Linked DNA regions of Homo sapiens: all the other regions are linked to region 2. Evidence: fine-mapped expression QTL. A gene starts in region 2. Each other region holds a variant in brackets. All regions are shown on one strand. Distances are between the middles of the regions.

Evidence for each region. PIP is the estimated chance that this variant, and not a neighbour inherited with it, causes the effect.
Region 1: its variant is the best candidate, but not a certain one, in a credible set for the expression of MSANTD3 in whole blood (Lepik 2017, PIP 0.67).
Region 3: its variant is the best candidate, but not a certain one, in a credible set for the expression of MSANTD3 in unexposed skin (GTEx, PIP 0.55).

The regions. Positions count from the first base shown.
Region 1 is chr9:100,617,291-100,620,047 of GRCh38, reverse strand. No RefSeq gene overlaps it. Among named protein-coding and RNA genes, the nearest start is that of CAVIN4, 41 kb to the right of the region's middle. RefSeq lists enhancers at 1-491, 492-992. The variant G/A (reference allele first, on the strand shown) is at 1,115.
Region 2 is chr9:100,425,667-100,428,423 of GRCh38, reverse strand. MSANTD3 (Myb/SANT DNA binding domain containing 3) reads right to left here and starts at 1,281. Exons shown (of 3, transcript NM_080655.3): 1 at 1,031-1,281. RefSeq lists silencers at 785-904, 945-1,174, 1,215-1,444.
Region 3 is chr9:100,450,599-100,453,355 of GRCh38, reverse strand. MSANTD3 (Myb/SANT DNA binding domain containing 3) reads right to left here. Exons shown (of 3, transcript NM_080655.3): 3 at 1,622-2,757. The coding sequence ends at 2,390. The region is part of intron 1 of MSANTD3-TMEFF1 (MSANTD3-TMEFF1 readthrough); the gene reads right to left. Among named protein-coding and RNA genes, the nearest start is that of MSANTD3-TMEFF1, 10 kb to the right of the region's middle. The variant T/C (reference allele first, on the strand shown) is at 1,691.

The sequences.
Region 1 (2,757 bases), 190 kb before region 2:
ACAAATAGAAACAACTCTGGTCTGCAGCTCCCTGTGAGATCAACACAGAAGGCAGGTGATTTCTGCATTTCCAACTGAGGTACTCAGTTCTTCTCATTGGGAACGGTTGGACAGTGGGTATAGCCCAAGGAAGGCAACCCAAACCAGGGTGGGGTATTGCCTCACACAGGAAGTGCTAGGGGTTGGGAAACTCCCTCTTCTAGCCAAGGGAAGCCATTAGGGGCTGTACCGTGCACTTTGGCCCAGATACTGTGCTTTTCCCATGGTCTTTGCAACCCACAGACCAGGAGATTCCCTCCGATGCCTAGACCACCAGGGGCCTGGGTTTCAAACACAAAACTGGGCAGCCGTTTGGGCAGACACCGAGCTAGCTGCAGGAGTTTTTTTTCATACCCCAGTGGCACCTGGAACACCAGTGAGACAGAGCCGTTCACTCCCCTGGAAAGGGGGCTGAAGCCAGGGAGCCAAGTGGTCTGACTCAGTGGGTCCCACTCCCACAGAGCCCGGCAAGCCAAGATCCACTGGCTTGAAATTCTCACTGCCAGCACAGTGGTCTGAGCTCGACCTGGAATGCTTGAGCTTGGTGGGGGGAGGGACATCCGCCACTGCCCAGGCTTGAGTAGGGTTTTACCCTCACGGTGTAAAGAAAGCCACTAGGAAGTTCAAACTGGGCGGAGCCCACTGCAGCTCAGCAAGGCAGCTGCAGCCAGACTGCCTCTCTAGACTCCCTCCTCTCTGGGAAAGGCATCTCTGAAAAAAAAGGCACCAGCTCAGTCAGGGACTTATAGATAAAACCCCCATCTCCCTGGGACAGAGCACCTGGGGGAAGGGGCAGCTTTGGGCCCAGCTTCAGCAGACTTAAACGTCCCAGCCTGATGGCTCTGAAGAGAGCAGCAGATCTCCCAGCACAGCTTTCGAACTCTAATAAGGGATAATCTGCCCTCTCAAGTGGGTCCCTGACCCCTGTGTATCCTGACTGGAAGATACCTCCCAGTAGGGGCCGACAGACACCTCATACAGGAGAGCTCTGGCTGACATCTGCAGGTGCCCCTCTGGGATGAAGCTTCCAGAGGAAGGAACAGGCAGCAATCTTTGCTGTTCTGCAGCCTCTGCC[G/A]GTGATACCCAGGCAAATAGGGTCTGGAGCGGACCTCCAGTAAACTCCAGCAGACCTACAGCAGAGGGGCCTGTTAGAAGGAAAACTAACAAACAGAAAGGAGTAGTAGCAACATCAACAAAAAGGATGTCCACTCAGAGATCACTTCTGAAGGTCACCGACTTCAAAGACCAAAGGTAGATAAATCCACAAAGATGGGGAAAAACCAGTGCAAAAAGACTGAAAAATCCGAAAATTAGAACGCCTCTTCTCCTCCAAAGGAACACAACTCCTCGCCAGCAAGAGAACAAAACTGGACAGAGAATGAATTTGAAAATTGACAGTAGGCTTCAGAAGGTAGGTAATAACAAACTCCTCCAAGCTAAAGGAGCACGTTCTAACCCAATGCAAGGAAGCTAAAAACCTTGAAAAAAGGTTAGACAAATTGCTAACTGCCGTTTTAAAGAAGAACATAAATGACCTGATGGAGCTGAAAAACACAGCACGAGAACTTCATGAAGCATACACAGGTATCAATAGCTGAATCGATCAAGCAGAAGAAAGGATATCAGAGACTGAAGATCAACTCAATGAAATAAAGTGAGAAGACAAGATTAGAGAAAAAAAGAGTGAAAATAAATTAACAAAGCCTCCAAGAAATGTGGGACTATGTGAAAAACCCAAATCTACATTTGATTGGTGTACCTACAAGTGACACAGGGAACAGAACCAAGCTGGAAAACACTCTTCAGGATATTATCCAGGAGAACTTCACCAACCTAGCAAGACAGACCAACATTCAAATTCAGGAAATACAGATAACACCACAAAGATACTTCTCAAGAAGAGCAACCCCAAGACACATAATAGTCATATTCACCAAGGTTGAAATGCAGGAAAAAATGTTAAAGGCAGCCAGAGAAAGGTCAGGCTACCCACAAAGGGAAGCCCATCAGACTAACAGCAGATCTCTTGGCAGAAACCCTACAAGCCAGAAAAGAGCGGGGGACAATAGTCAACATTCTTAAAAAAAGTAATTTTCAACCCAGAATTTTATATCCAGCCAAACTAAGCTTCATAAGCAAAGGAGAAATAAAATCCTTTACAGACAAGGAAATGCTGAGAGATTTTGTCACCACCAGCCACCAGACCTGCTTTACAAGAGCTCCTAAAGGAAGTACTAAACATGGAAAGGAACATCTGGTACCAGCCACTGCAAAAACATGCCAAAGTGTAAAGATCATTGAAAATATGAAGAAACTGTCTCAACTAATGAGCAAAATAACCAGCTAGCATCATAATGGCAGGATCAAATTCACACATAACAATATTAACCTTAAATGTAAACGGTCTAAATGCCCCAATTAAAATGCCCCCAGACTGGAAAATTGGATAAAGCATCAAGACCCATTGGTGTGCTGTATTCAGGAGACCCATCTCATGTGCAAAGACACACATAGGCTCAAAATAAAGGGATGGAGGAATATTTACCAAGCAAATGGAAAGCAAAAAAAAAGCAGGGGTTGCAATCCTAGTCTCTGATAAAATGGACTTTAAACCAACAAAGATCAAAAGAGACAAAGAAGGGCATTACATAATGGTAAAAGGATCAATGCAACAAGAAGAGCTAACTATCCTAAATATATATGCACCCAATACAAGAG
Region 2 (2,757 bases):
CAGCCATCCTCAATCCTAACTCAGAAACTATGTTTTTTAATTAATATTCAGCAATTTCCTTGGAATACAATCATCTGCTCTGACATGCTGAAAGGCACACTCTCTGGCCCTGATATTATCCTACCTCCAGTTTTAAATGTATGACAAATATATCCCTGCATCCTATAACTACTCTCCTCGATACTGCAGGAACGTCTGTAATGTTAAATGTTATCACGCCTAAGAAATACCCAACCTCCTGAATCGGAATAGGGAGACTAAATTCTTCACTGTTTCGTACTCCTAAATAAAGATTATTCATGCAATTTACAGTAACTACCTCACAGCGCCAGGGTGATGATTCAATGATAATTCATGCCAACTGTTTAGTACCTAGGGCCTGGTACATACAGAGTGCTCAAAATTTAGCTGTTATCATTTACATACATTATCTTTCACAATAGTACCTGAGGGTAGATATTATACCACGCCCCCCCGACCCCCGCCTCTAATTTACAGAAACAGTAGCCCCGGCTCGGAGTAAAGGAGCTTTCCCAAGGTCAGTCAAGCAAGGATGTGATGCTCGGCCTTCATCCTGCAAGTGAGGGATCCCTCCCGTTACACTCTGGACGGGCGGGGCACTGGAGGTCTTAAAGGAGACAAGTATGGAAAAGCGCCGAGCACAGTGATCAGCACACAGTGGGGACGCCGGGATGGGAAGACCGCGGTACTGCAGGTCACCTGGATTCCCCCCGAGCAGCTCCCCGAGCCCGGGAGTCCAAAGCCCACCCCGCTCCCAGCCGTGGGCGCGCCACTGAGTACCCCAGAGGCCCGCGCCCCGGGGCTTTGTAGGCAGCAGGCCGGCCCTACTCACCGAGTCCCATCGCGGCGCGCAGAGGCGGCCGCCCGGCGCCCAGCCTGCAAGGCCGGGGTCGCAGCGGCTCGGCCCGAAAACCCTCCATGCCGGCCCCCGGCCCCCTCTACGCCCGGCCCGCGCCCCCCACCCCCGCCCCCGCCCGGCTGCGGCCCGCCCGGAAGGGGAGCCTCCTACCTGCAGCGGCGGCGCGGCAGCCGCGGCGACCGGGGGAGGGGCCGGCGAGGCGCGAGGGCGGGCGGCCTGGGCTCCTCTCGCAAGCAGGGCGGCCGGGAGGGCCGCGGGCTCCCGAACGCCGGGCGGCGGCGGCGGCGGCGGCGCGCCCCCGGCCGGCCAGGCCCCGCCGCGCGCGCCGCGGCCACAAAGCCCGGACGCCGCCGCCCCCTCGCGGACCGCCCGCCGCCTGCCGGTCCGTCGGCGCCGCCGAGGAGGGCGGGAGCGCGGCCCCGCGCCAGTCCCCACTTCCCCGAGCTGCGGCCGCCGGCCTCCAGGGGACTGGGGCGGGGCGCGGGGTGCCCCCCCGCCCACCTGCCCGTCCGCACCGACCCCGCTCCTGACATCCTCGGGCTGACGTCCTCGTGCTGATTTAGTTGCCTTTTTTCCCCACCTTTGCAGAGGAGCTCCTGAAGCGGCCCGAAAAACTGTTTTATTTCTATGAACAACAAAAGAATACATTTGTCACACGGGATTTGGCGGCCATGAACACGAGTTAGTTCAGTCCAGGTCCCCCGACTGAAATAGGCCCTTTTCTTTTAGGACTCCTTGATACTTGGGACAGCGAATCCCCCTATGCTGAGTTTATCAGAACTTCTGTTAATTTGTGGAACGTGCCTCCCCCAGGAGAGCGACTGTGCTCACTGGAGCCCAGGACCTGTCTCGGACACTGTGCTGACTCATTTGGAATTAATGCGTGTGTAAATGCATGCACAACAGCTCAAACTGTCGGGACAAGCCACCCTTTGCTCCTCCCGCAAACAGAGTGGCTGGATGTTTCTTTTGCCCTGGATCCATTGGGAAGACTCCAACCCCAGAGAAAGGCAGAGAAGGCTTTTTAACTTTTTTTTTTTTTGAGGTGAAATTCGCATAACATAAACCACTTAAAAGCGAACGATTTGGTGGCATTTATTACATTCATAATGTTGAGCAACCACTTCTATCTAGTTCTGAAACATCCATACTCCATTAAGCAGTAATTCCCCAGTCCCTCCTTCCTCCAGACCCTGGCAACGACTCAGCTATTTTCTATCTCTGTGAGTTTACTTTTTTCTGGGTATTTCATATAAATGCAACCATACAATATGCGGCCTTTTGTGTCGTTTCTTTGACTTAGCCTGTATTTAAGATTCATCCATGTTGAGGCGTGGATCAGTACTTCATTCCTTTTTATGGCTGATTAATATCCCATTGTATGTGTATATTATAATTTGTTTATTCATTCATCCCTTGATAGATATTTGGGTTACTTCCACCTTTTGGCTATTGTGAATAGTGCTGCTCTGAACATGCCTGTACACATATTTGAGTACCTGTTCCCAGTTCTTTTGGATACATACCTAGGAGTGGACTTTCTGGGTCATAGGGTAATTCTATGTTTAACTTTTCCAGGAACTGCCAAAAAGTTTTCCACAGCAGCTGAATGAATCATTTTACATTCCCATCACCAATGTTTGAGGGTTCCAAGTTTCCACAACCTTGTCAACACTTGCAATTTTCCGTTTTTGTGTTTTAATTCCTTGAACATTTTTGAGACTATTGCTTGCCCTCCCAACTCCCACTATCCATAGCCCTAAAGTAAAAACTGATCTAGGTTTTCACTATGTACAAAGAATCACGCAACCCTTTCTTTCTTCCCTCAAAAAACAATCCAGGGCAGAAGCACCAATAAAAATAAAGACCCTAAACTA
Region 3 (2,757 bases), 25 kb before region 2:
CCTAAGCCAAATTTTTGAGAAATAAAAACTTCATAGAGTCCTCTGAAACCTTGCTATTCAGAAGTGTGGTGACCAGACAAACAGAACTGGCATAAACCAGGAACTTGTAAGAAATGTAGAATCTCAGACCCCACTCCGTACTCTCTATAAAACGAGGTTCTTAAATGTGTCAATAGGTGAAGCAAAGGCAATCTTTGCTCAGTTCACATGTATGTTTAGGGTCTGCCATTCCCTGTCCTAATTCTAACAGGGTAGGAGGGCATGAATCATCAGATTCTCTCTTCCACAAACCACTGAAGATTGGGACTTTATCCTGATGCTTCTTTCTCTAAAAGGGTCCATTTGGTAAAAACTAAATTAAGAACATAAATCCTTACAAAAGGATCTTTTCTTTCAAAGAAGACTAGTCTTCACAGGCTTTCTTCAAATAACCAGTTCCTCTAAGACATTGAAAATATAATTCGGTGTTTAAAATAAATTCATACCCGTTTTGTGTGCTGTGCATAAATAGCAAGTATATGTGTACCTTACCAAACTTATGGTCCCCAGTCCCCAAATTCCAAAATTATGCAGGAGGGAAGGTTAGCCATTGCAGTAAACAATTTCTCCCTATTGACCCATGCTCTCCAGCTGATTATGATGTGGGCAGTACTCATCCAAGGCTATACAGACCAGCCGGGCGCGGTGGCTCATGCCTGTAATCCAGCACTTTGGGAGGCCGAGGCAGGTGGATCACGAGGTCAGGAGATCGTGACCATCCTGGCTAACACGGTGAAACCCTGTCTCTCCTAAAAAATAGAAAAAATTAGCCAGGCGTGGTGGTGGGCGCCTGTAGTCCCAGCTACTCGGGAGGCTGAGGCAGGAGAATGGCGTGAACCTGGGAGGTGGAGCTTGCAGTGAGCCAAGATGGTGCCACTGTACTCCAGCCTAGGCGACAGAGTGATACTCCGTCTCAAAAAAAAAAAAAAAAGACTATACAGACCACACCATAGCCAAGAAGTTGTAACAGACTTGGAACGTCATCTAGCCCAACTCCCTTGTTCTGTGGACAGGAAACACTACACCAAGGGTTAAAAGGAGTTACCCACATTCATACGGCAACTTGACGGAGAGTTGAGCTTAGAATTCAGGCCCTGACTCCAAGGCCTATACCACTTATGTGGACTCTGCCACATATACTCCTCCTTCCCCACCACATGGCCTTGAACTCTCACTGTCAGAAACTGCTGATCTGCCTTGGCACTTAAGTGTCACTTTGCTGCTTCCAGCTACTGCTGTCCCCAACACCCGGGGCTGTTTTTAACAAGAGGCTACAGGAGAAGCTATACTGCAGCTCAGTCAAAATATCCATTTATCAATCCATATTTCCGAATATGTTGGTAATGGATCCTCAAAAGGCCCAATGCTAATTATGTAATGCCAGCTACAAAGCATTACTACTGGCTAGCACCATGAGCATGGTGAGGGAAGGGCCTTTCCTTTGGTAGCTAAAGACTAAAAGCAAGGGCAACTATCAACTCAGTAGTACAAAGCTGGGAGGAAACTAGAGAGAGAAGAGAAAAACTGGAGCACAGCTGGGAAGGCAGCACCTTTAAAAAACATACACAGTGTGACTATAAAATTGCAAGTCTTTTTTTTTTTTTTAATAAAACCAACATAACAGAATGTAGAAATCTAAACGAACATTTCT[T/C]CCTCAAAGTAGTTACATCCTTAGCTCCAACAAAACTACTATTGTTGGAGACTTATTTAGAACTCCTGTTTGAGGAAAGGCCTTAAAAGGTGGTTTATGAGCCACATTAGAAAATACCCTTCTAAACTTTGGGCTGTTTAAAAACAGAAAATCCATACTCAGAGGATGACACCGAGAAAATTAAAAAGGTGCTGCAGCTCTCACGGAGGTTCCCTAAAGACCTCTAGCAAGTTCTGAGCAACAGCATCACCATTGGAGAAACGTGTAGCCTCCCAGGACAGCCACTTTCCATGGGACGGCATTCATTTGGATAGAAAAGTTCTGCTGTCTGTTTAAAAAGAAAAAAGAAAAAAAAAAAAATCAGCCACACTCCTTTATAGTCACACTTGCATTTGATTAAAAAAAAAAACAACAACAACAACACTCACACGTGGTTCTTGTATGAATTCTAATTAAGAGACATTATATTCAGAATTATAGCACTCATAGTGATAATTTTCAGAAGACTATAACAGCTTCTTTGCCACTTAAGGGGTACAGAGGGTGCAGCTGTTTACCTGAATGAATTCTTAAATAAGTGACTACTACCACTCTAATTTTCCTAGTTGTAGCTCTGTTACAGGTTACTGACCGCCAAGTCCATGTTCCAGACATTCTTTGCCAACACAGATTAATTACAAGAGAGCCACCCCCAAAGTCTTAGGGCGAATTGGGAAAGGGCCGGTTAAATGAGGAAACAGGCCATTCCTTGGTAAAAGTTTGTAGTTTTCTTTCCCAATACATCTTCTTTTTATTGAGAACTTCCATTTTTATCCTGTGTTCCTCCTCTGCCATCTCACACTCTCGCTCTATCTGCTGGATTTTGGCCACATGCACCTCATTCATTTGTATCAGTTGCAGTTGTAAGATGGACATTTGTTGATGGTGTTCTTCCTCATGCATCTTTTTTAAAGCACCTTCCTGAGAGGTTTTGCTCCTGTAGTTTTTATTGGCTGTTATTCTGACAGCTGAACACGAGGGTTCAGGTTGAGAGGTCCCCTCACATACTGGAAAATGTATGAACTCTT